Linked DNA regions of Homo sapiens. The protein of the gene in region 6 interacts with the protein of the main gene of each other region in a pairwise test. Each region holds a gene or a part of one and is shown on either strand. Other genes may lie near its edges. The genes, in order: ZG16, ANKRD53, SAXO1, ZFP90, ATP23, GLYCTK and PUDP.

The links.
Region 1: the proteins of GLYCTK (region 6) and ZG16 interact in binary tests that used the Homo sapiens proteins (3 or more experiments, as listed by UniProt).
Region 2: the proteins of GLYCTK (region 6) and ANKRD53 interact in binary tests that used the Homo sapiens proteins (3 or more experiments, as listed by UniProt).
Region 3: the proteins of GLYCTK (region 6) and SAXO1 interact in binary tests that used the Homo sapiens proteins (3 or more experiments, as listed by UniProt).
Region 4: the proteins of GLYCTK (region 6) and ZFP90 interact in binary tests that used the Homo sapiens proteins (3 or more experiments, as listed by UniProt).
Region 5: the proteins of GLYCTK (region 6) and ATP23 interact in binary tests that used the Homo sapiens proteins (3 or more experiments, as listed by UniProt).
Region 7: the proteins of GLYCTK (region 6) and PUDP interact in binary tests that used the Homo sapiens proteins (3 or more experiments, as listed by UniProt).

The regions. Positions count from the first base shown.
Region 1 is NC_000016.10:29,776,160-29,781,055, reverse strand, and holds the start of ZG16 (zymogen granule membrane protein 16 precursor), read right to left. Parts: upstream 2,801-4,896; 5' UTR 2,750-2,800; intron 1,797-2,749; 5' UTR 1,790-1,796; coding exon 1,735-1,789; intron 1,552-1,734; coding exon 1,419-1,551; intron 953-1,418; coding exon 637-952; 3' UTR 1-636. UniProt on the Homo sapiens protein: May play a role in protein trafficking. May act as a linker molecule between the submembranous matrix on the luminal side of zymogen granule membrane (ZGM) and aggregated secretory proteins during granule formation in the TGN.
Region 2 is NC_000002.12:70,977,143-70,981,975, reverse strand, and holds the start of ANKRD53 (ankyrin repeat domain-containing protein 53), read right to left. Parts: upstream 3,347-4,833; 5' UTR 3,331-3,346; coding exon 3,161-3,330; intron 2,880-3,160; coding exon 2,633-2,879; intron 2,316-2,632; coding exon 2,116-2,315; intron 41-2,115; coding exon 1-40. UniProt on the Homo sapiens protein: Required for normal progression through mitosis. Involved in chromosome alignment and cytokinesis via regulation of microtubules polymerization.
Region 3 is NC_000009.12:19,026,064-19,030,414, forward strand, and holds part of SAXO1 (stabilizer of axonemal microtubules 1), read right to left. Parts: intron 1-4,351. UniProt on the Homo sapiens protein: May play a role in the regulation of cilium length. Stabilizes microtubules at low temperature.
Region 4 is NC_000016.10:68,564,951-68,567,972, reverse strand, and holds the end of ZFP90 (zinc finger protein 90 homolog), read right to left. Parts: 3' UTR 842-3,022; downstream 1-841.
Region 5 is NC_000012.12:57,947,424-57,951,774, reverse strand, and holds part of ATP23 (mitochondrial inner membrane protease ATP23 homolog), read right to left. Parts: intron 1,062-4,351; exon of another isoform or gene 891-1,061; intron 18-890; coding exon 1-17.
Region 6 is NC_000003.12:52,286,354-52,291,144, forward strand, and holds the start of GLYCTK (glycerate kinase), read left to right. Parts: upstream 1-1,474; 5' UTR 1,475-1,523; exon of another isoform or gene 1,524-3,950; 5' UTR 3,951-3,989; coding exon 3,990-4,366; intron 4,367-4,606; coding exon 4,607-4,758; exon of another isoform or gene 4,759-4,791.
Region 7 is NC_000023.11:7,048,010-7,051,727, forward strand, and holds the end of PUDP (pseudouridine-5'-phosphatase), read right to left. Parts: intron 2,464-3,718; coding exon 2,287-2,463; 3' UTR 911-2,286; downstream 1-910. UniProt on the Homo sapiens protein: Dephosphorylates pseudouridine 5'-phosphate, a potential intermediate in rRNA degradation. Pseudouridine is then excreted intact in urine.

The DNA.
Region 1 (4,896 bases), on a different chromosome or scaffold from region 6:
GTGGCTTCCTGAGGAAGGAGGAATCCCAGATCTGAGAGGGCTTAGCAGGACACCGGGGCTCATGGGTAGAGGTGAGGAGGAACTGGGCCTGGTAACAGGGCAGGGTCCTCGGGCACAGACTTCAGCTAAGTTTCAGGAGTCAGGTGGGTTCTGGGAAAGAACAAAGGCTAATGGTCCTGGCCACCCACACACAGCAAGTGAGTTCACCACTTTCTCAAGGGGAGGACCAGGGGTGAGGAGAGCTGGAGAGTGGGACATCTGGGGTTTTGGTGTAAGCCACAACTAGGCCTTGCCCTCAGACCCATGACTCCAGTTTGGATCAATGTTCCAAGGAGCTGTCCTTGAAGAGCGTTGATGCAAGCCAGAATCTCATCTCCTCTTGATAAATTATAGCACAAAGCCCAGGATTCTTACATACCTCTCCCTCATCTTCCCATCTTCCAGACAGATGTCCAAAGCCAGCCAGAAGTGAGATTTGCACGTCCCCGGCTAAGTCAGGAGGCAGATATCCCAGCCACAGATGCCCCCACACAGACTAGCCTTAACCATATTTTTTTTATTGAGCCATTTGGATGGGGGTTAGTGATAAGGGAGTTCTTACTCCTCATCACAGTGCCCCTGCCAAGGAGAGGAGGCTCAGCATCTGCTGCAGCTACTGGGGTAAACATCCCAGTGCAGGCCAATGGCATCGATGAGAGAACCAGACCGGCCACTGATGAAGCGGAGCACGGTGTTGGGGTGCAAGGGGACGGCATTGAAACTTGTGCCACTGTCTTTCCCAAAAGACAGATAGCGGCCCTTGTCTGTCACAAATACCAGCTTCTTCAGGTACCACTTGTACTTCCCAGAAACCTGGATCACTGATTCCCCAGGGTGCAGAAAGATCTCCTCCAGGTCTCCGTTGCGACCACCCACATAGTCGCTCCACACCTTGCCATAGCGCACCTGAAGACTGAGGAAGAGGGGAGGAAGGAAGGAGAAAGAAAGGTGATGATAGGGATGAGAGGTCTCTGGCTAGTCCTACAGACTGTGAAGCCTGGGTGAACCCTGGAAGATCCTACAGGGAACTTCAACTCATTTTGCCAACAAAGAGACTCTGTCACCCAGGCTGGAGTGCAGTGGCATGATCTTGGCTCACTGCAGCCTCAACATCCTGGGCTCAGGCAATCCTCCCGCCTCTCCCTCCTGAGTAGTTGAGGCTACAGGTACTCACCACCATGCCTGGCTAATTTTTTTGTTTTTCTTCGGTAGAGATGGGGTCTTGGTACCTGGAGCATGGTTTAAATCCCTGGCATCCCTGGCATCTTGCCCAGGCTGAGCTAGAACTCCTGGCCTCAAGCGATCTGCCTCTGCCTCCCAAAGCATTGTAATGACAGATGTGAGCCACCGCGCCCAGCCAGGAATTCAAAGAATCTTACCCTACGATGTAGTATGTGTTGACTCGGACCCGGAGGGCGGTGATGGGGCCGTCCAACTGGTTGCCAGAATGAGAGAATCGCTTTCCACCACCACCTCCATACTCTCCACTATAGGAGGAAGACCTGGCCTGAACTGGAGGGGCAAGCAGGAGTTGGAGGGAGAAATCTTCCAGGAGTTCAGTTTCTCTGCATCACCCCTGTTCCTCCGACAACTCAGCTCCCCACCCCAAGCCAACCTCCAAAAGCCTTGGCCAACAGCAGTGCCCAAGGCTGCCTTCCCAAGTCCCCAATACCAGGCTCCTGGTATCTCACTTACTGGCATTGCCAGAGGCTGAGGCACAGAGAAGGGCTAGGAGAGCGACTGTCAACATTCTGGGGCTGGAGTGGGAAGAAAAGAGCAAATGAAGATTCACCTTCTTCCTTGTTGACTTGATTGACCCAGGCACTCCTGACCTGCAGCTCAGACCAAGCCTTCTTCGTCCTTCAACTTAGACCTAGCAGACCCAGTCTTGAGCTTAGAAAGGACTGTCCATAGCCTGTAGTCCTGTTCCTCTCTGATGCTACCTTCAATGTCCCTGACCCCTCCAGCTCTCCCTGGTCTGGCTGTAGCCAAGCCCTCCTCTTTTTCTCTCAGGCCTGAAGATGAACTCTAACTATCTGGATTAAGCCTTATTCCATCCTGGCACAAAGCAGAAAAGTTTTCTGAAGTCAGCCAAGCCCAGGTACATTTGGGTTGGTATGGCCATAGCCAGGAAACGAGTTTTCTAAGGAGGGAGTAGAGGACCTCTCCCAAGCAAAGAGATGGCTGAGTTTACTGAGCCCAGAGGCTGAGCAAAGAAAGCCTCATCATCTGTGGTGAATTGGCCTGGATTATGGGGCACCTGGAGCATGGTTTAAATCCCTGGCATCCACCTGGTCTCAAGGAAAGAAGCATTTTAGAGTTGCCTCTATGTTACCTGGGGAGCAAAGTTGGTGACAGAAGGAACTGTGCCAGCACCAGTATCCAAGCAGTGCTGGTGGAACTAGGACAGACAGAGAAGTTGCAGAAGGAGTCGGGACCAGCTCAAGATATTAGACCCCAGGTGCCTGGTCTATGTGTCACTATTCTTTTCTCCACTAACACACATCTGGCCATTTCTATTCTCCTGAACATCCCAGGTGTCCCCAGTCCTTCAGCAGAGACCTAGACAGCTTTGCACCTAAGATTACTGCAGACCCAGAAGCGCCAATTAACTCAAGTCTTTCCTGCCATTCCTTCCAGGCATCCTCTTCGCCAGCTCAGATTTGAATTCCCCCCCAACTCAGATTCAGGCATCTCTGTCACCCCTCACCTGACAGTTTCAGATGCAAAGCAGCCCCCTGGAAACTTCCAGATGTTTTATACCAGGTCCAAGCCCTCCTCCTGCCCTTTATTGTGTGAACCTCACCTCCTGAGCAAACATGAGCAACCTCTTCGGATCAGGTGTCAGGCAGGGTCTGGAACACCTTATCCTGCCTCTACCCCATAGTCAACAGATACTACAGCATAGGGTAAGATTCTCTGAGTTCCTGGCTGGGCATGGTGACTCACACCTGTCATTACAATGCTTTGGGAGGCAGAGGCAGATCGCTTGAGGCCAGGAGTTCTAGCTCAGCCTGGGCAAGAGTGTGAGACCCCATCTCTACCAAAACAAAAAACAAAAACAAAAATTAGCCGGGCATGGTGACGAGCACCTGTAGCCTCAACTAATCAGGAGGGAGGTAGGGAAGATCGCCTGAGCCCAGGACGTTGAGGCTGCAGTGAGACAAGATCACGCCACTGCACTCCAGCCTGGGTGACAGGTGGCAAGCTGGAGTCCACTCTGGGCCAAGTGCCGTATACCAGGAGAAACATAGTAAACTTAAGGTCACCACCAGCAGCTCTAGGTGGGCAAAGTAGCTTATCACCTCTAGGCTTAGTAGGTGCTCTCACCTGAAATCTGCCATCTGTCAGGACAAACAGAGCCCTTCCCAGGCATTCGAAATGTGGATTCTCCCAGAAGGGAATATATTCCCAAAATCTTATACTTACGAGTGCTGACTATTTGCCAGACATTTTTTTCTTTCCCTTTTCTAATATTATGAAAAATCCAAACACATATAAAAGTTTAAAGAATTGTACAGTGGCTGGGCCCAGTGGCTCACACCCATAATCCAACACTTTGGGAAGCTGAGGCAGCTGGATCACCTGAGGTCAGGAGTTTGAGACCAGCTTGGCCAACATGGCGAAACCCCATCTGTACTAAAAATACAAAAAGTAGCTGGGTGTGATGGCAGGTGCCTGTGATCCCAGCTAGTCAGGAGACTGAGGCAGGAGAATCACTTGAACCTGAGGGGCAGAGGTTGCAGTGAGCTGAGATCACTCCACTGCACTCTAGCCTGGGCGACAGAGTGAGACTCCATCTCAAAAAAAAAAAAAAAAAAAACAAAAGAATCGTATAGCAAGACTGGGTGCAGTGGCTCATGCCTGTAATCCCGGCACTTTGAGAGGTCAAAGCAGGAGGACTGCTTAAGCTCAGGAGTTCAGGACCAACATGGGCAACATAGGGAGATCTCGTCTCTACAAAAAATAAAACAATTAGCCAGGCATGGTGGTGCACACCTGTGATCCCAGCTAGTCAGGAGGCTGAGGCAAGAGGATCACTTGAGCTGAGGAGGTCAAAGTTGCAGTGAGCCATGATCGAAACATCAAGTCTCAAAAAAAGGAAAAAAAAAAAAAGAATTGTATAGTGGACACTTATATAACCACTGTATAGATTCTACTATGGTTAATATTTTGCTGTAATTGCTTTTTTTTCTTTCTTCTTTTTGGAGACACAGTCTTGCTCTATCCCTCAGGCTGGAGGGCAGTGGCGCGATCTCGGCTCACTATAATCTCTGCTTCCCAGGTTCAAGCGATTCTCCTGCCTCAGCCTCCCGAGTAGCTGGGATTACAGGCATGCGCCACCACGCCCAGCTAATTTTTGTAATTTTAGTAGAGACAGGGTTTCGCCATGTTTGCCAGGATGGTCTCGATCTCTTGACCTCGTGATCCGCCCACCTCGGCCTCCCAAAGTGCTGGGATTACAGGCGTGAGCCACTGTGCCTGGCCTGCATTTTTTTTTCTATCCACTCATCTATTTATCCCCAATATGCCAAACACTTCCCAAACCATTTCTCTCTGAGAAGGATGACTGGGGCTGCAGGTGCACAGTGAACACGTGCCTATTGCCCCACAGGAAACAGAGTCAGTCCAATGGGAAGTGCAAAGCTAAGGATCCGAAGGTCTACAGGTGTTCCTCTGGGGGTAATTCTGGGCTTTGGGCCCTCAAGTCTCCTGGGTACCATGGCTGAATCTTCCTGGGGCTGTAGGCCGCCCAGGGCCATTGCTTCTTTCTTAGGTCTGTAACACCCCCAGGGGTGATGTCATAGTTTTTTTTTTCTCTGTATGCCCTTCATTTTCAGGACTGATTCCTCTCTG
Region 2 (4,833 bases), on a different chromosome or scaffold from region 6:
GGCTGCCAGGTGCAGGGGCGTGGAGCCGTTGCATGTCTGACTGTGGAAGGCCCCACCAGTGGGGATAAGGGCAGAAAGGAAAGACAAAGAGCATCTGTCCATCAGATAGATGGACACACCAGTTTCCAAGCCCTGCTCTACCATCAGTCCACTGGGTGATCCTAGCTATGTCTGTCCCTTTTGGCACCTCAATTTCCTTTACTGTAAAGGGAGGAATTGGACTAAGTGAACAGTAAAAATCTGACTTTAGAAGGTATGTGATAGTTAAGAACTGCTGGAAGGAGAGCTGGCTTGGTTCAGAGACCACTAACCTCATCCACTCTTAAACCAACCAGCCCCCTGCCCTTTCCCTATGCCTCACCAGATTCCGTATGCCCACAAGATCTGCATGACCTGGGCCTAACCTCCTCGATCTTATCCTTTGACCTTGCCCACTCTTTCCCAACACATGGTCTTTGCATATGATGTTACCTCTACCTGGAACACTTTTCCCTGGCTCTTTGCATGGCTGGCTCACTCTGTCTTCAGGTTCCAATTTAAATGTCACCTCCTTAGAGGTGATTGCTTCATCCAAAATAGATCCTCCCCCTACCTGCTTTACCCCCTACACCATCACCCCGTTTATTTTTTCATAACCACTTCCCATGCTCTGTCAGGATTTTGTTCATTTATTTGTTTGCTAATTCACTGTCTGCTCCTTTACTAGAATGTCAGCTTCGTGAGGAGAGGGACCATTTCTGTGACTCTAGCATAGTGCTTAGCACATAGTGCATACTTGATACTTTGAATGAATGCAGTCTCCTATATGCCATGCACTTTTCAGTGATCACAGTAGTCCCATGTGATAGGTACTGCTATTCTCCCAAGTTTCAGTTGAAGACACTGAGACAGAGGTTCCCAAACTTAGCTTCAAGTTAGAAGCACCTGGGGATCTTTTCTGACTTCCCAAGCCCAGGTCACACCACAGACCCATTAAATCACAGCCTTTGGATTGGAACACAGGTGTTTATATTTTTTAATTTTTTTTTTTTAGACGGAGTCTCGCTCTGTCGCCCAGGCTGGAGTGCAGTGGCACGATCTTGGCTCACTGCAAGCTCTGCCTCCCAGGTTCACGCCATTCTCCTGCCTCAGCCTCCCAAGTAGCTGGGACAACAGGCACCCGCCACTACGCCCGGTTAACTTTTTTGTATTTTTAGTAGAGACGGGGTTTTACCATGTTAGCCAGGATGTTCTTGATCTCCTGACCTCGTGATCCGCTCGCCCCAGCCTCCCAAAGTGCTGGGATTACAGGCGTGAGCCACTGCGGCCAGCCTAATTTTTTTTATTTTTTATTTTTTGAGACAGTCTCGCTCTATTGCCAGGCTGGAGTGCATTGGAGCAATCTCGGCCCACCGCAACCTCCACCTCCCGGGTTCAAGCGATTCTCCTGCCTCAGCCTCCCAAGTAGCTGGGACTATGCCACCATGCCACCCGGCCAGGTGTTCATATTTTTTAAGCTCCCTAGGTAATTCCAATGTACACCTAAGTTTGGGAGCCAGAGTACTGGGGCATAGAGGTTGAGTGACTTGCCTAAGGTCCTGCTGTCTGCTAGCAAGTTGCAGAGCTGGGATGTAGACTAGGTCTGTTAAAGGCCAATCTTTTTTTTTTTTTTTTTTTTGTTGAGACGGAGTCTCGCTCTTGTTGCCCGGGCTGAAGTGCAATGGCACCATCTCAGCTCACCGCAACCTCCATCTCCTGGGTTCAAGCAATTCTCCTGCCTCAGCCTCCCGAATAGCTGGGATTACAGGCATGCGCCACCATGCCCTGCTAATTTTGTATTTTTAGTAGAGATGGGGTTTCTCCATGTTGGTCATGCTGGTGTTGAACTCCTGACCTCAGGTGATCCGCCTGCCTCGGCCTTCCAAAGTGTTGGGATTATAGGCATGAGCCACCATGCCCGGCTAAAGCCCAGTCTCTTTATTACACCATGTGGATTCCTGACTGCTTTATGTGGGACCCAATCCTTGTCACCTCCAGCAACCCCTCTGCTTGTCCTGCATGGATTTGCCTGCCTGGAAGTAGGGCTGTGCCCGTGCCTGTGCCCGAAGCCTCCCTCCTGAAGCAGGCTGGACTCACGCATTGAGGTCTGCGCCTTTCTCCAGCAGGTAGTAGATGCAGGGGAGGGCCACGGTGGTGTTGTCCCTGTGGATGACGAGGTGCAGGGGTGTCTGGCTATTGTTGGTCAGCAGGTCCACGGGAAACTTGTACTCCTCTACCAGGACCTGCAGGCATGCAAGCTTGCCCCATTGGGCGGCGAAGTGGATGGCAGTGAAGCCCTGTGAGGTTCAGAGCAGGCAGGAGGAGGCTGAGTGGGACTGAGGTCCCAGGGTCCACAATTTATATAAATTTATTGGGGTTACCTTCACTTTCTTCCCTGTGTCCCCAGGAATGCTCACACCCTTTTGCTAATTAACCAGTGTGTGTTCATCAGCCCACCCAACCTCCCTGCCCCCAAAATGGTCCTTCCACAGCCAGAAGATGAGTTAAATTAGGAAGATCTACCCAGAAAAGGATATCTCTTCTCCAGGTGACCACTCCGAGCAGCGTAGCGGGAGAGGGACCTCGGTCTTTGCCCCAACACTCAAGACCTTACCTTGTCGTCGGTGGGGATTTCCCTGAGGCTCTGGTTCAGACAGAATCGCAGCCATTCCACGTTGCCCACAGCCGCTGCGAACAGCTGGTAGTAGCTCCCGATCGCCGTCTGGTCGATTGCCGTCTGGTCGGACTCCTTGCTGGGGCTGGGGTCAGCGCGGGGCGGGGTGAGCGAGGCAGGGCGGCGCGGCCTGGCGAGGGCAGTCGCCTGCGCACTGAGGTGGTCTGCGAGGTCGGGCAGGGGCTGGCTGGAGGGCGGGGCAGTGGGGAAGCGACTCTGGGCCACGGCCCGGGCACCTCTCGGGAGGCGATCCCTGGCCCCCGCCTGGCTGGTGGGCGGGGCAGTGGGGAAGCGACTCTGGGCCACGGCCTAGGCACCTCTCGGGAGGCGATCCCTGGCCCCAGCCTGTCTCTGCTGGCTTCTCGGGCCGCAGCCTCCGCCCCCGCCCGCTCCAGGCCCTGCCCACCAGGGAGGCGCTGGGCCGGGTTCTCGCTCCCTGCAGCCGGGACACCTTCTCCCGCTACCCACCTGGGCTGCTTGGACTCCGCGTCAGTCCAGGTGGCCTTCAAGGAGACTTTGTTCGCCTGCTGCATGGAGCCACTTGGAGTTGGCTGCGGCCGAGCACCTCTCCCTTCTCCCCTTTCTGAGTGCCAGCTTCCGGAGCCCGCCCGCCGAGCGGTGCTGCCCGCGGAGGCCATCGCGGGGCTGGAACTCGGACCCGGGCCGGGCGGGCTACTCACACACCCGCCGGCGCCCCGCCCCCGGGGGCCACTCCTTGCCAGCTGGCCGCGGTTTCCCGGCCCCTTCCAGGCCGCTAGGGTTCGGCTGCCTCTCTAGCTGGAGGGGCAGAGCCCGGGGGCCTCCGGGGACCCTGCCCGCCTGCCGCTCCCCACCCGCCGCTCTGCTCCCGGTCTGAGCCAAAACCCCCACTCAACCTCCCAGTCCTGCTGCCCGGGAAACTCAGCATCAAACACACAAACAACAAAGACACTTGGCTTTTGTTTCCGATTATCAAACTAATAAGTAGAAAACAGAAATATTCAATGTGGAAATTAAAAATTACCATCCCACCACGCACAGAAATCATGGTTTATTGCAATATATATGCATATCATGACTATTTTTTGTATCTCTTTTCGTTTATTAATAGCATTATATTACGAGCTAGCGCCCATTGTCACTCCACATACTAAACGTACATTATGACGCAACCAGAGCCCAGCGTCATAATGGATGTGCCATTGTTTCACATGTGCTGCCAAGAACGAAATGGCTCAACTCTGGTTGTTTTCTTAGAATGGATTCCTGGGAGTCGAATCACTAGGTGAAAGGGAATGAATATTTTTCAGCTGTCAATATGGGCTTGCAGACTGCCTTCCAGGAAGGTTATTATTCACTTCCACTTCCACCTGCAGTGAAGCGGGTGCGCTGCACATCAGCAGTGTGGCTTTTGGCAAGTTATCTGACTTAGTTTCTGTGGGCGGCAAGCCACCCAGGTGCCAAGGCAAGAGACCGAGGGCACAAGCTGTTCCAGTATAATAAAATATACAAAACAACAAGAGTTATACTAGATCTAGATCTAGATCATAGACGTGATTATATATGAATATCGTTAATCATTAGTTTGTAGCAATTACTCTTTATTCCAATATTGTAATAATCCTCGCTCTATAATCATAACCTAGGAAAAACCAGGCCATAGAGAGATAGGAACCAAAGGGACATAGTGAGAAGTGACCAGAAGACAAGAGTGCGAGCCTTCTGTTATGTCCGGACAGGGCCACCAGAGGGCTCCTTGATCTAGCGGTAATGCCAGCGTCTGGGAAGACGCCGGTTACCAAGTGGACCGTGGTCTGGCGGACCCTGGTCTGGCGGACCGTGGTCTAGCGGTAGCATCAATGCAAAGGAAAAGCACCCGCTACTTAGCAGACCGGGAAAGGGAGTCTCCCTTTCCCAGGGGGAGTTTAGAGAAGACTTTACTCCACCACCTTTTGTGGAGGGCTTGACATCAGTCAGGCCCGCCCACAGTTATCTGGAGGCCTAAACATCTCCCTGTGACGCTGTACTTCAGCGGTCACACTCCTGTTTCACTTTCATGTTCCATCCTGTACATCTGGCTCTGCCTTCTAGATAGCAGTAGCAAAATTAGTGAAAGTACTAAAAGTCTCTGATACACAGAAATAATGGCGTAAGCTGTCCTC
Region 3 (4,351 bases), on a different chromosome or scaffold from region 6:
TTATAATTTGCCATATATTTCAAAATAGCTAGAAGATTATTTGTAAGCTTCCCAATACAAATAAATGATCAATGTGTGAAGTGATAGATATGCTAATTACCCTAATTTGATTGTTACATGTTATATGAATATATCAAAATGTCACTTGTACCCCAGAAATATGTACAATCATTATGTATCAATTTTTTAAATGGTCCAGTGTGACTCGAAAATAGACCAGACTATAAATTTTAACACCTAGCAGTGTCTGATACCCAGTAAAATATGAATAAAATTTAATTGATTGACCTAAATTGTGCCTGAAGCTTAACATGTTCCCATATATTAAAATTAATCTCAATGTTTCTATTTCCTTATCTGTAAAATAAAAGAGCTAGAGACCACTAAGATCCCTTTCAGCTTTAAAAGTCTGATTAACGTTTTACTTTACAGCAACCCTGCCTTGCGCCACCCACTCCCCCACCTAACCACAGTTTCAAATTTAGTCATCTGGGAAAGAACAGCTCAATAGACTGAAAACATCGCCAGGGAAAAGAGAGGCTAAAATCAAGGAATCGAATTTCCAAACTAAGCAATGCTTCCCATGTTGAGGGACCCACAGTAAGATAATAATATATGGGAAAATACTTTTTGAATTTTCAAAATACTGTAAAGATGGAAGGTGGTTTAATATTATAAAATGCTGGGCCGGGCGTGGTAGCTCACACCTGTAGTCTGAGCACTTTGGGAGGCTGAGGTGGGTGGATCACAAGGTCAGGAGTTCAAGACCAGCCTGGCCAACATGGTGAAACCCCATCTCTACTAAAAATTCAAAAACTAGAAAAGAAGATGGCAACCGTGTGGGATGAGGCCAAGCAAGATGGAACTGGGGTGGAGGTGCTCAACATGTCCACGGAGGAGATCATCCAGCGCACATGGCTTCTGGACAGTGAGATCAAGATCATGAAGAGTTAACTGTTGAGAGTCACCCATGAGCTCCAAGCCATGAAGGACAAGATCAAAGAGAACAGTGAGAAAATCAATGTGAACAAAACCCTGGTGTACCTTGTCTCCAACATCATCGAGCTCCTGGATGTTGATCCCAATGATCAAGAGGAGGATGGTCCAAATATTGACCTGGACTCCCAGAGGAAGGACAAGTGTGCTGTGATCAAAACCTCTACACGACAGACATACTTCCTACCTGTGATTGGATTGGTGGATGTTGAAAAGCTAAAGCCAGGAGACCTGGTGGGTGTGAACAAAGACTCCTATCCAATCCTGGAGACACTGCCCAGAGTACGACTCGCGGGTGAAGGCCACAGAGGTGGATGAGAGACCCACGGAGCAATACAGTGACACTGGGGGCTTGGACAAGCAGATCCAGGAACTGGTGGAGGCCACTGTCTTGTCAATGAACCACAAGGAGAAGTTTGAGAACTTGCGGATCCAACATCCAAAAGGGGTGCTGGCCCCCAGGGACGGAGAAGACCCTCCTGGCCTGGGCCTGTAGGGCACAGACTAAGGCCACCTTCCTAAAGCTGACTGGCCCCCAGCTGGTGCAGATGTTCACTGGAGATGGTGCCAAGCTAGTCCGGGATGCCTTCGCCCTGGCCAAGGAGAAAGCGCCCTCCATCATCTTCACTGATGAGCTGGATGCCATAGGCACCAAGCACTTTGACAGCGAGAAGTCCGGGGACCGAGAGGTGCAGAGGACGATGCTGGAGCTTCTGAACCAGCTGGATGGCTTCCAGCCCAACACCCAAGTTAAGGTAATTGCAGTCACAAACCGGGTGGACATCCTGGACCCCGCCCTGCTACGCTAGGGCGGCCTGGACCGCAAGATCGAGTGCCTGGGCCAGAATCATGCAGATCCACTCCCAAAAGATGAACGTCAGTCCTGACGTGAACTGCGAGGGAGCTGACCCGCTGCACAGATGACTTCAACGGGGCCCAGTGCAAGGCTGTGTCTGTGGAGGCGGGTATGATCGCACTGCGCAGGGGTGCCACGGAGCTCACCCACGAGGACTACATGGAAGGCATCCTGGAGGTCCAGGCCAAGAAGAAAGCCAACCTACAGTACTACGCCTAGGGCACGGCAGGCCAGCCCCGGACTCGCGGCTGAAGTGCGCAATAAAAGATGGTTTAGAGGCAAAATAAAACAAAACAAAAAAAATACAAAAATTAGCCGGCCGTAGTGGCGGGCGCCTGTAATCCCAGCTGCTCGGGAGGCTGAGGCAGGAGAATCGCTTGAGCCCGGGAGGCGGAGGTTGCAATAAGCCAAGATCGCGCCATTGCACTCCAGCCTGGGCAACAGAGCGAGACTCCGTCTCAAAAAAAATAAAAAATAAAACTCTTCGGAGTAGCATTTTTTCAATAACAGGAAATGCTGGAGATAATCAGATGCAATTGGAAACATTATACTCTCATATACAAAATTAGAGTTACTCTATTCAAAGCACTCCCCCACCATGTAGCTTCTTAAGTCAAGATAATTAAGTGGTACATTAGTTTCAAAAAAAATTTAGATGCTGACCTTACTGTTTCTGCAAACCACAATACTCTGCTTTTTTGGTGCTGATTATGTTGAAAAGAGAATATTATGACATTCTATGGTAATAATTCCAATTGCAAGATTTTGATCTTCAAGGAAAGAAGTAGAGCATTGTTGTGGAGGCAAAGCCTTGAGCTTGACGCAGTAAAATATGTCTGATTTTTTTTTTAGCCCAGCAAAGCTCACTGAAAAGTTTTACAAGTGATTGGAATCTTTAAATTTAGACATTTGAAACACTTTTCACTTCGTAATCTGCCATCTACTCTGAAAGGCGTACCACTTTCCTGAGCTCTGCTGGACCCTAAACTCTAATTGCTCATTTTAGAAAACTAAAGATAAATCTATTTAAAAATAAAATAAAATCCAGAACTCCAAAGGTTTTGCTTTTCCATTCAGGCTGATTTGGTTTAACCCGCAGTGAGAATTGATCAGGAAACGTCTGCCATCTTGTGGCCAAATATAAGAACTTGCTCCAAGAGAGTCACCCATTGGTGGCTTTTCCTCAGCAGCTGTGGGCAGCTGCTCCTGCAGATGGACACCTTTTTATCCAGGCCTCTGAGCATCTCCAGAGCCCACTCGCCAACAAGTACAATGTCCTCAAAAGTTAAAGTTGAAAGGACATTAAAGAATTATTTGCTCAAGAAAAACTTCGGAAGAAGAGAATGTGAGAGAGAAGGGGGAATAAATGTGCCTCTCTCCCTCCCTGGCAGCCCTGAGGGTCTCCACAAATCTCCAGGATTAAAAAATGGGGGAACTGAAGCCCAGAGAGAACCAGTGACTCACTCAGGAACCCCGGTCTCCCCCTCCCACTCAAGGGCGCTGTCTCTGACTTCTTCATGCATGCTTGTCTTCCAGATTTCCCATTGCTTTTTCCCATGACCTCAGACTGGAAAAGCCAAATATAGACTTCCACAGCTTAGAAAACACCTATAAAATTCCTCGCTCCATCCCAACCGGTCACTGAGCAGATTTAATTGGGGTGGGAGGGATTTAATTGGGGTGGGAGAGATCAAGACTTCCAAATAATGAGACTCAAGATCAGTGTTGTCCAACAGAACTTTCCGCAGTGATGGAAACACTCCCTATCTGCATGTGCCGGTATGGGAGTGACTATACTCGAGTAGCTACTGAGCACTTGACATGTGGCTTGTGCAGCTGAGAAACTGAATTTTTAGTTTTATTTAACTTTCATTTATTTAAATGAAATTGCCACAGCTGGCTACCATACTGGACAGTACATCTCTAAATCTTACATTCCTAACCCAGTCCAGCATGTTATGACCTTGACAAACAAAAAACGCCATCCATTCATTCAAAAAGATATGTGTTAGCTGTTAATAAAGAAAACTGTGTTGCTATGATACAGTGCACACACAAAAATAGAAAATATCTGTTTTCCCAGCGTACATATAATTAATCGAGGATATAAAGCATGCTGATGCATAGAGGATGAGAACACGGAGCGGGGTTTTTCTTTGATGGGGAGCCACAGGGCTGGGTTAACAGGGAACTTGCAAGTGAAACCGGGCCTTACAAGTCCAGCAGGAGGAGGGAACATAGGTATTTTAGAGAAAGGGAAAGGATAAGGATCAGAAAAGGGACATCAGCAGGTCCACTCAGGGGATGCCAAGAAACCTGATCCAATTCAAGGTGTAGTTTCATGTAAGGGAATCATGGGAGAAAAAAAAACTAGGAAGGTAATTTAGGACCAGTTTCCAAACACAAAAATGAGAGAACCAGGGAGGTTGTAACCGGAATAAAAGGGAAGGGACCAATTAAAGAAAGATTACAATGGAGGAGGGACCCAGACTTTAGAAA
Region 4 (3,022 bases), on a different chromosome or scaffold from region 6:
CCACCTTAGTATTTTTAAAAAGTGCTCAATCTTGAAGTCAGAATACTGCAAAGTGAAAAGCCTACTGCAGCTATTAAAAAAACCAAGCATCACCACCATCAATATGCCTAAAAGTGCAGAAGTCTTTTCTCATCTTCCATGGAGGTGCGCTAGATGCTCTGGCAGGTAAAAGTATATCATACATATTTTAGGTTTCTTTAATGCAAGCAACAAACATAAAAAATTAGCTTGAGCAAAAAGGAGAAACTGTTGGACTGATGGGGAGCTTCCTGAATCCCAAGGAGAGCTTCAGAAATTGAGCCAGGTCTAAGGACATCAGGAAATAGAAACAAGAACACCATCATGTCAACCTTGTCCTCTCCTACTTCCCATCTCTGGTAAGAAATCAGGTTCCAGGAAGCTCTAGGCCTTTATCTTTTGGCCTAGCAACACAAAAGCCCAAAGTAGGGCTCCTTCCAGCTCTACTTGGAAAAAATTCTGGCAAAGGACTCTGATTAGCTGAACTAGGTCTCATGCCTGCCCCTAAAACTATCAGTGAGCCCCAGGGACATCCTGATTTAGGTTCCTACAGTCAATACAATCAGATTGTTGCAAGAGGAAAAGGGGGAAAATGCTGGGCAAAGACAAGAACTACCACCACACCGCTAACCAGAAGTTATAAGGATTGAATGACAGATGTGAAACACCTAGCACAATGTCTTTAAAGTAGTAAGCATTCAATAAATGGTAGCTATTAACTCACCTGGCTGTGATGAGTTTAGCAGTTAATTCCTCCCTCTTGGTGCACCACTCTTTAATCTTAGCCAAGTTCTGAAAATTGAAAACGACAAACTGACTCCCATTCAACTCAGAAGGCTATTTATTGAAAGAATACAATGATGTTACAAGGATGCATTTCACGTAGCCCTAAAAGGCTGGGTATCCATAAGTGCATGGTTCATGGCTGTTGGGACTAAGAAAGCCTTCTGGTCAATGAGCCACACATATGTCCTGGGCTCCCTCCCTGTCAATGAAGATGTGCTGAGTTTCAGAGTGGTGGCTGGATCTAGGCCAAGCACCAAACACAAACCAGTACTCTCCTTTGGGTCTTCTGGAACTAAGGTTTTATAAACTTCCGTAACAGTGGGGGCAGCACTCAGTTGGTTACAATTCATGCCATTCCTGAAAGTAGTCCACTATGGGGATCCCCAAACAACCAGTAGCATAATGAGTTCCTGACAGGCATCCTAGCCAATCAGTAGGGAGGGTCTGAGTAGAATTACCCATTGTCAAACTATGTATCAGATAATAGAAGCACAGCCTTGGCATTGTGTGTGAGCTAATCATGGTGCACCATAAACAAGGTGTTTTGGATGGTCAGCATCTCAGAAGGGCAGATCTGCCATTGAATATTCCATTTTGCATCACAGAGGAGAGACTAATTGAGCTACACATATTACATTTCAGCCCCCATGCACAATTTTTTCCCTGCAAAGAATGAAGAATACTTGGGTGCTGCTGCATGCCATCCATGATGAGAGAAAGGCAATGAATCCTGCTATGTGGCATGCAAAGAATCCAGTAGGAAAGGTTCACCATCAATACGACCAATATCTTGCCCCATGATTCATATTTAGGGCTGGGAAAATTTATCTATCTTTGGGAGGCAGCTCTTGTGTAAAAGGAATCAATGTCCAGTTGTGCCCAAATTGGTCTGCATGGTCAATGTCAACACACCAACAAAGGTTCTGGAAGTTCCTTTAGGATAGCCCATGGGAGTCATTAGGGGATGGAGCAGGCCACTGAAGCTTAGCTGATGCTTTACTAATAGAAAAGCATTATACAACTAAAATAAATTGATGTGTGTGTGTCTTGCTCTGTTGCTCAGGCTGGAATGCAGTAGTGTGATCTCAGCTCACTGCAGTCTCTGCTCCCGGGTTCCAGTGATCCTCCCACCTCAGCCTCCTGAGTAGCTGGGACTACCACTGCATGCCACCATGCCCAGCTAATTTTTGGATTTTTTTTTTTTTTTAAAGAGATGGGGTTTCACCATGTTGTCCAGGCTGGTCTTGAACTCCTGGGTTCAAGCAGTCTATCTGCCTTAGCCACCCAAAGTGCTGGGATTACAGGTGTGAGACACCATACCTAGCCAAGTTAATTTTTTTAATGGTGAAATCTTTTCTTTGCACATAAAATGAGCCAGTGCATGTTGCTTCTCTGAGTACAAGGCAAAATTTATGGCAATGGGCAATTAGACTTAACTTTTCTGCAAGAAAATTAACGGGAAAATTCTCCTCTTAGTTTTCTGTTGTTTTCCCATTGATCTGATACTGTAGGCTTAAGAAAGTGCTTTTTCATGGGCATGCCATAAAAAGTACAATAAGGGGACTTAATAGTTCTGTGAAACTGGCATATGTTAGCTGAAAGTATAATTGTAACTGGGAAAAGGGGAAAAAAGTCACTAGTAGTTCAACCATCTACAGTTTCTGTTAAATTGTGGTTTGTAAGCCTCCAAGAAGTTGCTTTAAATAGTTTGTGATAAATTTGCATACATTTTGCTCCCACTTATACTTTTAAGAATTCTCAAAGTGTCCAACCCATAGGTGCCCATTAAATGTTTGTGTATCTGATACATCTTAAAATTTATTTTAAAGCCCTCTGAGTCCAAAAATAACCTTTTCACTGGCAAGGCCATGGGGCCCCAAATCCAGGAAACCTGCATTTTTAACCCAGCTTTACCCTTATAGGCTGTATCATACTGTGGAAACCACTTCACATCTTTGGCTTTCAGTCTTCATCTGTACAATGAAGTGGTTGGGCTAGTTGATCTAATTCTTTGAATGGTGACTTCCTGGAGTTGGAACTGGTTTCCATGGTGAAGTTAATGTAAGAGCTGCAGTTGAGTGCAGTTGTCAAGCAATTTTTAAAATGGGTTTTGGTCATTACTGCAGGAATTTGCTTTTTAAAAAAGCTGTTGACATTGGGGGTCACAAGTCAAGATGTTGAAACTTGATGATATCCTGCATACATATATTCAAAAGCA
Region 5 (4,351 bases), on a different chromosome or scaffold from region 6:
TTCTGGCACAAAACTATCTAGGAGACACCAAAATAAAAGAAGTTCAGTGATTCTAAAATCTCCTTCCATAGACTCGATCTTCTCTCCCACATGACCTCACCTCTCCCCCACAAGCTCACCTGCCTGGAATATCTCTACCCACTCTTCTTCATTGGCCACACATCTACCCATGGGACAAGTCCTAGTCCTAAGTGTACATGCTCCAATTGCCTCGCCCAGTGACTAACTTCTCCCTTCTCCTCTCTCTGGACTACAGCAGTACTTAGATTAAGGACACGTATTCACACACCATCCTTACTGGGCTGATCGTACTAGTCTGTCTCGGACTCCACAGCATTATGGTTAAGAGAGTGGGCTTTGGAATGAAGCACACAGATTCAAATTCCAGCTCCACCCCTTACTAACTCAGTGACCTTAGGCAAGTTTCTTAATCTCTCTGTACCTCAATTTCCTCAACTATAAAAAGGAGATAATTAGGGTAGCTACCTCATAGAACTGTGAGAATTAAATGAGAATATATGTAAAATACTTCTTATCAAGTTTCTGAATGAGCATTGAATGAAAAAGGAATGACCACCACTGTCCTCATTTTACTAGAATGAGGGCAAATGCCAGGGAAAACTCATCAGAAAGACCTTCAGAAAGAAGTGCAAAACACAACAGCACACTGAGCAGGACCCTATAAGAATAAGAAAGACACAAGGGATCCTAATAGTAATAGCTGCCATTGATTGTGTACTACTGCCAGACACTGGGATATGTGCCAGATATTTATATACATTCATTCAACATCCATTGATTCAACTAATACTTATTGAGACCTAATAATAGATTATAATCTACTGATGGAGATAGAAACTAACCAAATATTTACCAAAATGTTTACATACATGCAATGACAGTTGTCATGAAGAAAAACCCAGGTTGTCATGAGCATATACAATGAGGTTGGGTGCAGTGGCTCATGCCTATAATCCCAGTACTTTGAGAGGCTGAGGCAGGCAGATTCCTTGAGCCCAGGAGTTCGGGACCAGCCTGGGCAACAGAGCAAAACCCCATCTCTATAAAAAAATAAAATAAAAATTAGCCAGGCATGGTGGCACATGCCTATAGTCCCAGCTACTTGGAAGGCTGAGGTAGGAGGATCACTTGAGCCCAGGAGGTTGGTGCTGCAGTGAGCCAGGAACACGCCACTGAACTCCAGCCTGGGCAAGAAAGGGAGACCCTGTGTCAAAAAAAAAAAAAAGAAAAAGAAAGAATGCCTGACCTACTCTGGAGGTGGGGGAAGGTTTCTCTGTGGAAGGAATGGTTAAACTGGTATCTAATGGAGGAATAGAAGTGAAATTTGAGGTGTGGAGGGGAAGGGAGTATTCTAGGCAGAGAGAAAAACCTATGCAAAGCGTAGAGGGAGGGTTGACGGAAGAAAATGCTTGAGAAGCTAAAAGGAGAGCCCTAGAGTTGAAGCACAGCGGTGGGGGTGGTAGGCAACAGATACGGCTGGTGAGGTCGGGGGGCCAAATCCCTGAAGACCTTGTCTTTACCCTAAGAGCAATGGGAAGCTCTCAGGATAAAGGGAATGTTGAAACAGAAGACTGCTTTTGTTTTATTTTGCTTTTATCCTTTTAACTATAGTTGGAAGAATAGGCAGGAGATGGCCAAAACTGGATGCAGAGAAATTAGCTGAAGGCTAATATTCTAGGCAAGAGAGAACAGCACTTCAGCTAGAATGGTGGTGGAAGCCAAAAGAGTTATTTAGGAGGTAAATTAGACAAAATATGTTGATAGAATACGGGGAAGGAATCAGGGGTATCAAAGATGATCCATAAATTTCTGGCTTGGCTAATAGGGTCGATGGTAGCACCATCCACTGAGATATGCAAAACTAAAAGACTGGGTTGAGTGGGGAGATGGGGGATGGTAAAAATCATGAATTTGGACTTACACATTTCAAGTCTGAAGTGTCCTTAAGACCCTTAAGTAGGTGGGGAGCAGTGGCTCTCACTTGTAATCCCAGCACTTTGGGAGGCTGAAATGGAAGGATCATTTGAGGCCAGGAGTTTAAGACCAGCCTGGGCAACATAGTGAGACCTCATCTCTACAAAAAATTTTAAAAGTTAGCTGGGTCCAGTGATGCACTCCTGTAGTCCCAACTACTCAGGAGGCTGAGATGGGAGGATTGCTTGAGCCCAGGAGTTCAAGGCTGTAGTGAGCCATGATTGCGCCACTGCACTCCAGCCTAGGCGACAGAGCAAGACCCTGTCCCAAAAAAACTTTTTTTCCTTAAAAATAAAAATAAATAAATAAATAAAAAGATGCTCAAGTAGAGGTGTTAAATGGGCACTTGGATATATGGAATGTGGAGTTCTTAAAAGTGAGCTTTGACCCCAGAAAATTGATGAGACCTCCTTGGCAGAGTAAGAAAAGAAGGGGCTCTATGACCAAGGATTGAGGGACTTTGACATTTAAATGCTAGTAGAGGAAGGTAAGCTAGCAAAGGAGCAACCAGAAGAGTGCTGTATACTAGAAACCAAAGAAAGTGTTTGGCATTAACAGCTGAAGTCAAGTGTATACAAACTATATGACCCAGTAATTCTGCTCTTGAGCATATACCTTAGAGAAACTCTTGCACATGTGCACCAGTAGCGAAGGTCAAAAATATTCATAGCAGCATTGTTCATAATAACAAAGTTGGAAACAATCAATATTAGAGTAAACTATAGTATAAACACACAACGGAATAAATACCATATAACAGGGAAACGAAATAAACCAGAGAGGTACACACAACAACAAGAAAGAATCTCACAAATGCTGAAGGTGGAAAGTAATTGGAGACTATATACTGTACAATTTCATAATACTACAAAATGCTACATAAAATTCAAAGTATAACATGTATAAAGCTCAAAAGCAGGCAACTAAATAACACACTGTTGGATTGTATATGTAGATGGTAAAGCCATTCAGAAAAGCAGGGAATGGTTACCACAAAAGTCAGGATAAGGAAGGGAAAAGGACCTGATTCAAGAGGACCACGAAGGCTTCTGAAGTCCTAGTAATGTTCTTTTTCTCTAGTCTGGGTGGTGGTTACATAGGTGTGCACTTTATTATTACTGAAAGTGTACATATAGATGTTTTACTCTTCTGTATGAATGAGATACTTCATAATAAAAATTTTCATTTAAAAAAATAGGCCAGGCACAGTGGCTCACGCCTGTAATCCTAGCAGTTTGGGAGGCCAAGATGGGTGGATCACCTGAGGTCAGGGGTTCAAGACCAGCCTGGCCAATATGGTGAAACCCTGACTCTACTAAAAATACAAAAATTAGCTGGGCATGGTGGCACATGCCTGCAATCCCAGCTACTCAGGAGGCTGAGGCAGGAGAATCACTTGAACCCAGGAGGCAGAGGTTGCAGTGAGCCCATATTGCACCACTGCATTCCAGCCTGGGTGACAGAGTAAGACTCTGTCTCAAAAATAATAATAATTTAAAAAATAATAATAAAATAAAAGGAGAGGGTGCCCAACTGTGTTCAACACTGCTGAGAATTAGGATGAAAGTTCAAGATGTGCACTCTGTTTAACCCTGGGGGGACCGAGAAGGGAGTGAACTTATCCAGAGCCATTTTGAGAGCTATAGGTATTGTGATTACCAGTTTACAAATGAGGAAACTGAGAAGAAGAAAAATAACTTGCCCAAGCCCCACAGATAATAAGCAAGGAAACTAGGATTTGAACTCAAGTCTGACTCCAAAATCTAGACTTCTCATCCTTGTTCTATATTGCCACTTCACATGATTACTGTAAAAATGCTATAAATAACCTAAATACATACAAAATTATCCAGCAGGAAACAGTTAAGTGTAGTTAAGTATGAATTATACATTCAAGTGGGAAACAGTTACTTATAACACCATCATTTACCCTGATCACATGACATTATCTACCACCTCCAAGACTCTGTCGAAACTCTCTGATGACTTAAAACTAATAATAAAATTTATTGAATGCTTACTATGGGCCAGGCACTAAGATAAGCAACTCTATAAGAGATATCTCATTTAATTCTCATAATCATTCCATAAAATAGATACAATCGTTGCCCAAATTGTACAGATTAGAAAACTCCCCTAATAAAAAATTTTCACAGGCAGTATCAATTCTCACCACGTAAAGGTAAAAACCCTTTAATTTAGCATTCAAAACCTCCCACCATAGGGCTTACATTTCCTTCCAATCCTATTTTCCCTCATTCCCCACATGTTCCTGCCCTCCAGATAAACTAGACAATATGCCATTCCCTACACATGCCATGCAGTTTCGTAGCATGCACTTTTGCTCATGCTGCCC
Region 6 (4,791 bases):
GGTGGCGGGCGCCTGTAGTCCCAGCTATTCGGGAGGCTGAGGCAGGAGAATTGCTTGAACCTGGGAGGCGGAGGTTGCAGTGAGCCGACATCGTGCCCAGGCTGCAGTGCAGTGGCCGTGAGCTGAGACTGTGCCATTGCAGTCCAGCCTGGGTGACAGAGCAAGACTCCACCTCAAAACCAAGAGAAAGAAATGTGTTTTTGTTTGTTGGTTTTTTTTTGAGACAGGGGCCCAGGTTGGAGTGCAGTGGCGTGATCAAGGTTCACTGCAGCCTCTACCTCCCAGGCTCAGGTGATCCTCCCATCTCAGCCTCCTGAGTAGCTGGGACTACAGGAGCATGCCACCACACCTGGCTCTTTTTTTTTTGGTAGAGATAAGTTTCGCCATGTTCCCAGGCTGGTCTCGCATTCCTAGGCTCAAGCGATCCGCCCACCTTGGCCTCCCCAATGTTGGGATTACAGGCGTGAAACACTGCGCCCTGCCAAGAAACATGTTTCAATAAAATTGTTAGGAAATCAAGTGTGTGATTTGTGATGCAACTCTCTCCTCTATCTCCCTAAGAAAACATCAGTAAAAACAGTGAACTGTTTTGTATTTTTGGAGTCTGATCAGGACTCATCTTATGAATGTGGGAAGGCATCCAGCCAACACAGGGTAGGCCCCGGATGAGAGTAGGGACAGCGAGGTAGGCCCAGAGTCATTAGCGTTTACATGCCGCTTATGTGCTTGAGGATCGCAGAATGGAACTCTTGCTAAGCCAGAGCTGTATTTGGTGGCCCATGGTGGGAGAGGGAAGAACAATAATAAGTTGTGGAATAAAAGCCATGGAGAGGAGCGGGAATTACTTAATCTGGCTCCAGAAGGGGTGAGTTGTGGGGAAGTAGTGATTCTCAGTTCGTTTGCTCAGCCCAGTCAGTGCCTGACACTCAGGGTGCATCTGCTGACTGACCGTACAGGATAAAGGAAGGGAGAGGCCGGGTGCGGCGGCTGAAGTCTGTAATCCCATCACTTTCGGAGGCTGAGGTGGGTGGATCGCTTGAGGTTAGGCGTTCGAGACCAGCCTGGGCAACATGGCGAAAGCCCGTCTCTACTAAAAAATACAAAAATTAGCCCGGAGTGGTGGCACATGCCTGTAATCCCAGCTACTCGGGAGGCTGAGGCATGAGAATCGCTTGAATCCGGGAGGCGGAGGTTGCATTGGGCCGAAACCGCGACTCTGCACTCCAGTCTGGGCGACAGAATGAGACCCCGTCTCAAAAAAAAAATCGGCAATCGGTGAGGCGGGGATTATTACCCTCAATGTAGAGATTTAAAAAATGAGGACTGAAGGTGACTCCTTCCAGGTCTGTCAGTGGCCAGCAAAGAGCCAATATGCTAAACTCTCCCCTCCCGGACACCGGCTTCAGCCAGAGCTCGCACCCGCCTGCGCCGCTCCACCCACCCACACTTCCGGCTTCCGCTCCGCCCACCCCCTAGTACTTCCGTTCTCCAGCGCTGGGCACCGCGGCCGGAGCTGTGGGCTGGTAAGTCTGCGCCGCCAGGGCTCGCATGGCCTTCAGAAGCGGTCCCTGGGCTGGGCGATGACGGGTCCTGGTGGCAGCAGGCCCTTCTTTCTCGCATCACCGGGCATTACGCGGCAGCCATTTCCCTCGCTAAGGCCCTACCTTAGGATGACGTCACTTCCGGCCCCCTACTGTCTAGGGAAAGCCGGAAATGGTACCAGCCTTCTTTGATGGCGGGGAGGAGTCAAGACCGGTAGTCTTCCTATTTCCGTTGTTTTGCTCTGGAGCCTCCCGGAGTTTCGGAGAGACCGTGTCTTGGATAGAATTGGAGGACTTAGCAAATAAAAATGCAAAGCGTCCAGTTACATTTTTTTTGAGTTAGAATCTCACTCTGTCACCCAGGCTGGAGTGCAGTGGCGCGATCTCGGCTCACTGCAACCTCCGCCTCCCCTGTTCAAATGATTCTCATGCCTCAGTCTCCCGAGTAGCTGGGATTACGGGCGCCCACCACACCCGGCTAATTTTTGTATTTTTAGAAGAGACGGGGTTTCACCACGTTGGTCAGGCTGGTCTCGAACTCCTGACCTCAGGTGATGCGCCCGCCTCAGCCTTCCAAAGTGCTGGGATTACAGGCGTGAGCCACTGCGCCGGGCCACGTCCAGTTAAATTTGAGTTAAGATAAACGACGAATAATTGTTAAGTCCTAAACATTGTATGCACATACTTATACTTTAAAAATTACTTGTTTATTTGAAATTCAAATTTAACCGGAAGTCCTGTATTTTCTCTGGCAGCCTTAGCATTGAGCGTCCCCCTGTCCTGTGCTCATACCCAGTGGCAAGGCTGGGATCTTCTAGGCTCTTGTCCATCTGGGAAATAGATACAAATTTCATCCAGGCTATAAAGACCGGCTGTCTTAGTTGCTAAGATGCTTTTAGCTCCAAGTCCAATGGGCAAGCTCCAGGGGTCCCCCTGGCCAAAACTGGACCCATTTTCGGAATCCCCATGACGATGCCCTCTGTGTTCCCTTTCACAACAGAAGTCAGGCATGGCTGTCTTTTCTTACCGGAGAGCTGAGAACTAGGCAAGCAAAATGGTCAAAGTCTAGAAGTAACCACCATATTTGGGTGTGGGGTAAACCGGTGTTTGAGATCTGTGTTGCAGTGGACAGTATCAGAGAGCCTGAGGTTGTTAAGGGAAGAGCGTAGTGTTAATCTCACCCCATGTCTCATTTTGCGGATGAGGCCCAGTGAGAGAAATGGAGGTGTCCCAGCCACTCAGAAAGCCTATAGTAGAGCTGGAACCTCAATTCCCAGCCTCCTTACCCTGCTCAGTCCATACTTGCTGATGAAGTCAGCTTGCAACATTTATGGTAGGCATTTATTAAAGTAGATGCAATAGTACATATGTAGTACAGATGAGCTGTTTGGGTCTTTGTTGTTCCTATACCCCTCTACAGCTTCCTGACCTTCGCCCCAAGGCTTCTTTAGCTTTTACTCTGCCCAGTGGGGAAAATGGCTATGGGCTCAGTTATGGGAGCCTGGCCTTTGCCTACTTCAGCCCTTGGGCTCTCACCACTGTGGGTGGTGTGACCTAGGACTTGTTTTTGTTATCTTGGAACCAGAAGGCGTGTTCTTGGCAGGGTTGGGTCTGGCCAACTGTGTGGGTAGAAGGGCATCCTTTTCTGTCCTGCAATTGGGCTTCATGGCACATGGCCTCACATGGTGCCTGGGGACTTTTCTAAGGTTCCACCATGAGCCAGACTTTGCCCTCACTCCTGATTTGAACCTAAACCTCTTGCTGAACTGGTCCTGCATACTGAGATTCCTCAGATTGCTTGCCCTGAGGATGTGTTCTGGGTTTGACCTGATAAACCTGCAGCCTCCTATAGACCCTGACTTCCCAGGCTCCTAATCCCAGTCTCATGAGATAATGAAATAGAGAAGACTGGAGGTCAATGGGCTCAGGGTCAGTTGGTGGGACAATCAACAGCTTCCTGGCAGCAGAGGTGGTAAAGAGGCAAGGAAGGAGTGCCAGAAAGGGGCGTTGCCCCAGGGTAACAGCGCAGAAGTGCAGGGGGTGGAAAAGGGGTGGGATGGGAGCCCACTGGTAGAAATTACTCCCTCTGTCAATGATTAACTCCCAGCCAAAGGGGTGACCTGGGAGGAGGGCCCAGCTAATAGGAACTTTGGACTTGAGGCAGAGTATCCAGAGGGCCGGCATGTGGTCTGCAGAAGAGGAGGACGTGGCTGGGTGGCAGGGCTGGTCTCCAAGGACGAGTAAGATCCTGCAGCTGCAGGCTTCAGGAAGTCTCCTGGGGCTATCAGATGGCTCCTTCTTGTAGCAGCAGCTGTGGGGTCCACTGGCCCTGAGCCCTCAGAGGGGCGGCCGTGGGGGACCTCCTGTCTTTTGCCTTGCAAGGGCCTCAGTTGTGCTTTTTCCCTCTAGGCAGCCATGGGTGCCAGGCAGTGCTGAGAGCAGTGGGGCATGGCTGCAGCCCTGCAGGTCCTGCCCCGCTTGGCCCGAGCCCCCTTGCATCCACTCCTCTGGCGGGGCTCAGTGGCCCGTCTGGCCAGCAGCATGGCCTTGGCAGAGCAGGCCAGGCAGCTGTTTGAGAGTGCTGTAGGTGCAGTGCTGCCGGGCCCCATGCTGCACCGGGCACTATCCTTGGACCCTGGTGGCAGACAGCTGAAGGTGCGGGACCGGAACTTTCAGCTGAGGCAAAACCTCTACCTGGTGGGCTTTGGCAAGGCTGTGCTGGGTATGGCAGCTGCAGCTGAGGAACTACTGGGCCAGCATCTTGTGCAGGGCGTGATCAGCGTTCCCAAGGGGATCCGTGCTGCCATGGAGCGTGCCGGCAAGCAGTAAGGAGCCATGGGGGCCTGCCTCCCTCTATCTATCTGGAGGGAAACCTGGGCCCAGACACAGGCTGAATCGGGCCTCCCCTCCCCACCCGCTTCCCATTTCTCCTGGATCTGGCCTGGCCCCAGGATGCATGTCAGTGGGCATCTTCGTTCATGCCCCCATCACCTGTAAAGTTGAGAGATCAGGTGGGAGGAGAGGAGTCCACCCCATCTCTTGCGTGCTGACCTTTCCCTCCCCAGGGAGATGCTGCTGAAGCCACATAGCCGTGTCCAGGTATTCGAGGGTGCGGAGGACAACCTCCCGGACCGCGATGCGCTGCGGGCTGCACTGGCCATCCAGCAACTGGCTGAGGGACTCACAGCTGATGACCTGCTGCTCGTGCTGATCTCAGGTGTGGTACCACATTGGCCCAAGACTGTTGGTG
Region 7 (3,718 bases), on a different chromosome or scaffold from region 6:
TTTCAAGTATAAGACAGGTGTCTTCCAGATTATTTTTTTATATAAAACACCAAACTCCATCTGAGGATTTATGAGGTGGAAAAAAAGTCTAATAAGTAGTAATCAGTAAGTTCTTAAGTGTTGTGTATGTTTCATTTAAGTGAAATTAAGATGACGTTGATAGCGCCATCTCTTGGATGATATCAGCAGTATAACAGGTCCTTCCTAGGGGCACACAATATATAAGCAAACATTAGCTGCTAGTTACAGCACACCTGTATACATTCTACTAATCACTGTGTGTCCCTAATACGACATACTTTCAATGAGCTATGAAAGTATAATTACTCTTTAAACTTCCTTGGCATGTATCACTCTAGTGTAAATTTGTATTACCATATCTCTGTGAAATCCATGAGCTATTCAATGGAGTAACATCACTAAAATGTATTGAAGCAATTTGGCTAATGTGGAAGAATAAAAAAGAACGTATGTGCTTTGGCCAAGCATCAGTGTGTGTCCTTTGTCTAAAAATATAAGAATCTGGCAGCAGCTTTGGTTAAAAAACAGTAACGGACATGAGATCAAATTTACCCTGTAGGAAATTCACCCAGATGTAGATGCACATCACTTAGATATGCATTACACCCATTTGTCTTATTCATACAAAATGGCTTAATGATTAGAAAACACCAACATAAATACTTGGGAAGGAGAAGATACTAAATCAAAGAAGTAAGTCTTTCATTGAAAGCCTCTATTCACCACTGCAGGAGCAGGACGGCTCACTTAAAATATATAAATATCCGTTTACAGTTGGAGTACTAATTGGGATTTTTAAAAAATTTAATTAGTCACATATATATTTTACATTTCTTGGAAGACTGTTTTTTTCTTTTTAAGGTAAAATCATGACTCTCATACAAATATCAACATGTGTCAAAAGATTTTATTAAACTAATTCAATTTGTTAGGGAAATGGTAAGATGTTACAACTGGTTAAGAGGAGCATTAAAAGTGCAGACATATATTCAGGCCATCAAGAATGAGGAAATGAATTTGCTAAATTGATGCAACATCAATCAATAGCCAGGGCCTGTCATTCACAGACAATCACTCCACCACACGCACACATACATTCCTACGGTTTGTCCACAACTTCCAGAGCTGAAGAGTAGCTCAAGGACATCAAAGGGCAGAGGCCCCTAGGAAGGGCTGAGCCACAATGAAGCAGTGCTCCTTCACTCCCGATTTCCATGGCTACCACCGTTTTTCTCTGGCAAATCAGAGACGAATTTTAAAGACTGAGTAAATCTATAAAAGCGATTAATCACAGAAGTTCAATGTCTGATAAATTATTCCAAAAGTGTTCCTGGGCACTGAGACTCACCAAGCATACATTCTGAAATCAAATTCTATTTCTATCCAAAAAGTGCAGCCCATCAGTGTTCTTAAAGGAGGCAAATGGTTGTTGTGAGGTAGCAAACATTTTCCAATGCAGGTAAGGATGTAGATACCAGGTAAATGTTACAGTTGTGTTCATACTAACAATAAACTATGGATGACGTGGCACAGAGTCAGTCAATGAGGAAAGATCCAGAGACATTCTGAGGTCACAAAAAGAATTTAAATGTTAGCTAACAAGGAGTGCTCATCAAAAACAGGACTTTCCCACTCAGACTGCAAACCAGGCAGAACTACCATCTCGCTTTATCAGTTGTCATTGCATGTTGACATCAACACTGAGGAGAGTGATGCAGACGATAGATATAAACATATCTACATACATATGCATACATAAAGCATATACTTATATGCATACACAGTTTACATTTCCCAGCCAGTGTTCAGAAAAACTAGAAGAGAGAAGTGATGTTCCATTTTGTCTTGGAAAAGTATATATTTTACATATACATGCATGCATATGTCTACATACATATGCATGTAATGCCTACCTGCATATTACCAAACTGATACACACATGTATATATGGAGGTGTGTGTGTATATACATGTACATTCACTTTATCACATACTCCATCAGCTTGACTTCTGAGATGGTAATTCAAGTTTCATCTTTGTTCTGGGCTTCGTTTCTGTCTCTACTGTATTTTTTGTCTCAACCGTCAAGTCACATTTTATCAACACGTTAGACTGGGACAAACCAACATGGGATGGAAACTCCAATCTCAGGAGGCTAAAATCACAGCGCAGGTTGGGATTGAAGAGTTGCTGATTTCCTTTCCCTTTCCCCCAGCAGTGTGGACCATGAGAGTGGGCTGGGGGCGGAAGACTGAGGCCCTCCCTCTCACTCATAGGAGGGCAAACCAAACAGCTCGGGCTGGAAGTCCTGCAGGGAATTCAGCACCAGGGTGGCCTTTGTTGTCAGATCTCGGCTCAAGTTTCCGTCAGGAACCATGACCACCTGCATCCCAGCTGCCAGGGCCGCCTCCACCCCATTGGGAGCATCTTCAAAGACAAGGCACTGTAGGAAGAAAAAGAAAGTCGAGATGGCCTTTTATGGAACCAGACATGTGGATGAAGTGTTTATTATCGTCGTCACCATTGGCTCTGCAACTGTGCAGAAAGAGACAGAATTACAGTGGGGGCTCCCCAGAGTAGAGATTGTGGTGAGGACAGCATGCTGTTTCTTACTGGCTCCGGGGGTCTCCCCGCCGTGGCTCCTTTAAAGGGGAGAGGTTTCTGTTGCAGCCAAAGCATTGTTGAAATGGAGCGCAGCTGTGTGGTGAGGCAAGATTCTCAGCTTAAAACTTTATTATTTTATTGGGATCATAACAATCTGTTCAATCAATAATTGAACATTCAGAGTGTGAGAGGCAATTGCAAAACTAAAAATCATGCTCTTAAAATATAAAACCACTTCAGAGCTGCTCCTGTTTTATGTACTGTGGTTTGAAAATTAAATGGTTAGAATCTTTTAAGTTAAAAATTCAGTTCCTGTGTGTGCTAGTGTGACGTGACAAATGAGCACGAAAACGTAGTGTGCGTGCATGCTCTCTTTTGGATAATCGCGAAAATCCACTTTATTATTGGGATTACAGACACAACACCATCCAAAACCCGTGGTCTCTTCATTCAGATACCCACATTGAAAATGGGGTGTTTCCTACTGGCAACTGCAAAGATATGGAACCAACCTAAGTGCCCATCCACCAATGAGCGGATAAAGAAAATGAGGCATATATACACCATGGAATACTACTCAGACATAAAAAGGAATGAAATAATGTCTTCTGCAGCAACATGGATGGAGCTGGAGGCCATTATTCTAAGTAACTCAGGAATGGAAATCCAAATATCGTATGCTCTCACTTATAAGTGGAATCTAAGCTATGAGGATGGGAAGCCATAAGAATTCTATATAATGCATTTTGGGGACTAGCGGGGTGAGGAAGAAAAGACTACATACTGGGTACAGTGCACACTGTTCGGTTGACGTGTGTGCTAAAATCTCAGAAATCACTGCTAAAGAACTTATCCATGTAACCAAAAGCCACCTGTACCCTACAGACTATTAAAATAAAAATTAAAATTAAAAAGGAAAAAAATAAAGTACTAAAAGAAAAACCAATACATAAAATGGGGTGTTTGTACACTGCATTTATCAGTGAGCTCCTAAAGGTGCCACCACATTGACAATGTTACAGTAAGTTTCACATGAGGGCTCCCTCCAAAGGAGACACCCCAGAGCCTGCTCCATAGTATAAACAAGCATAATC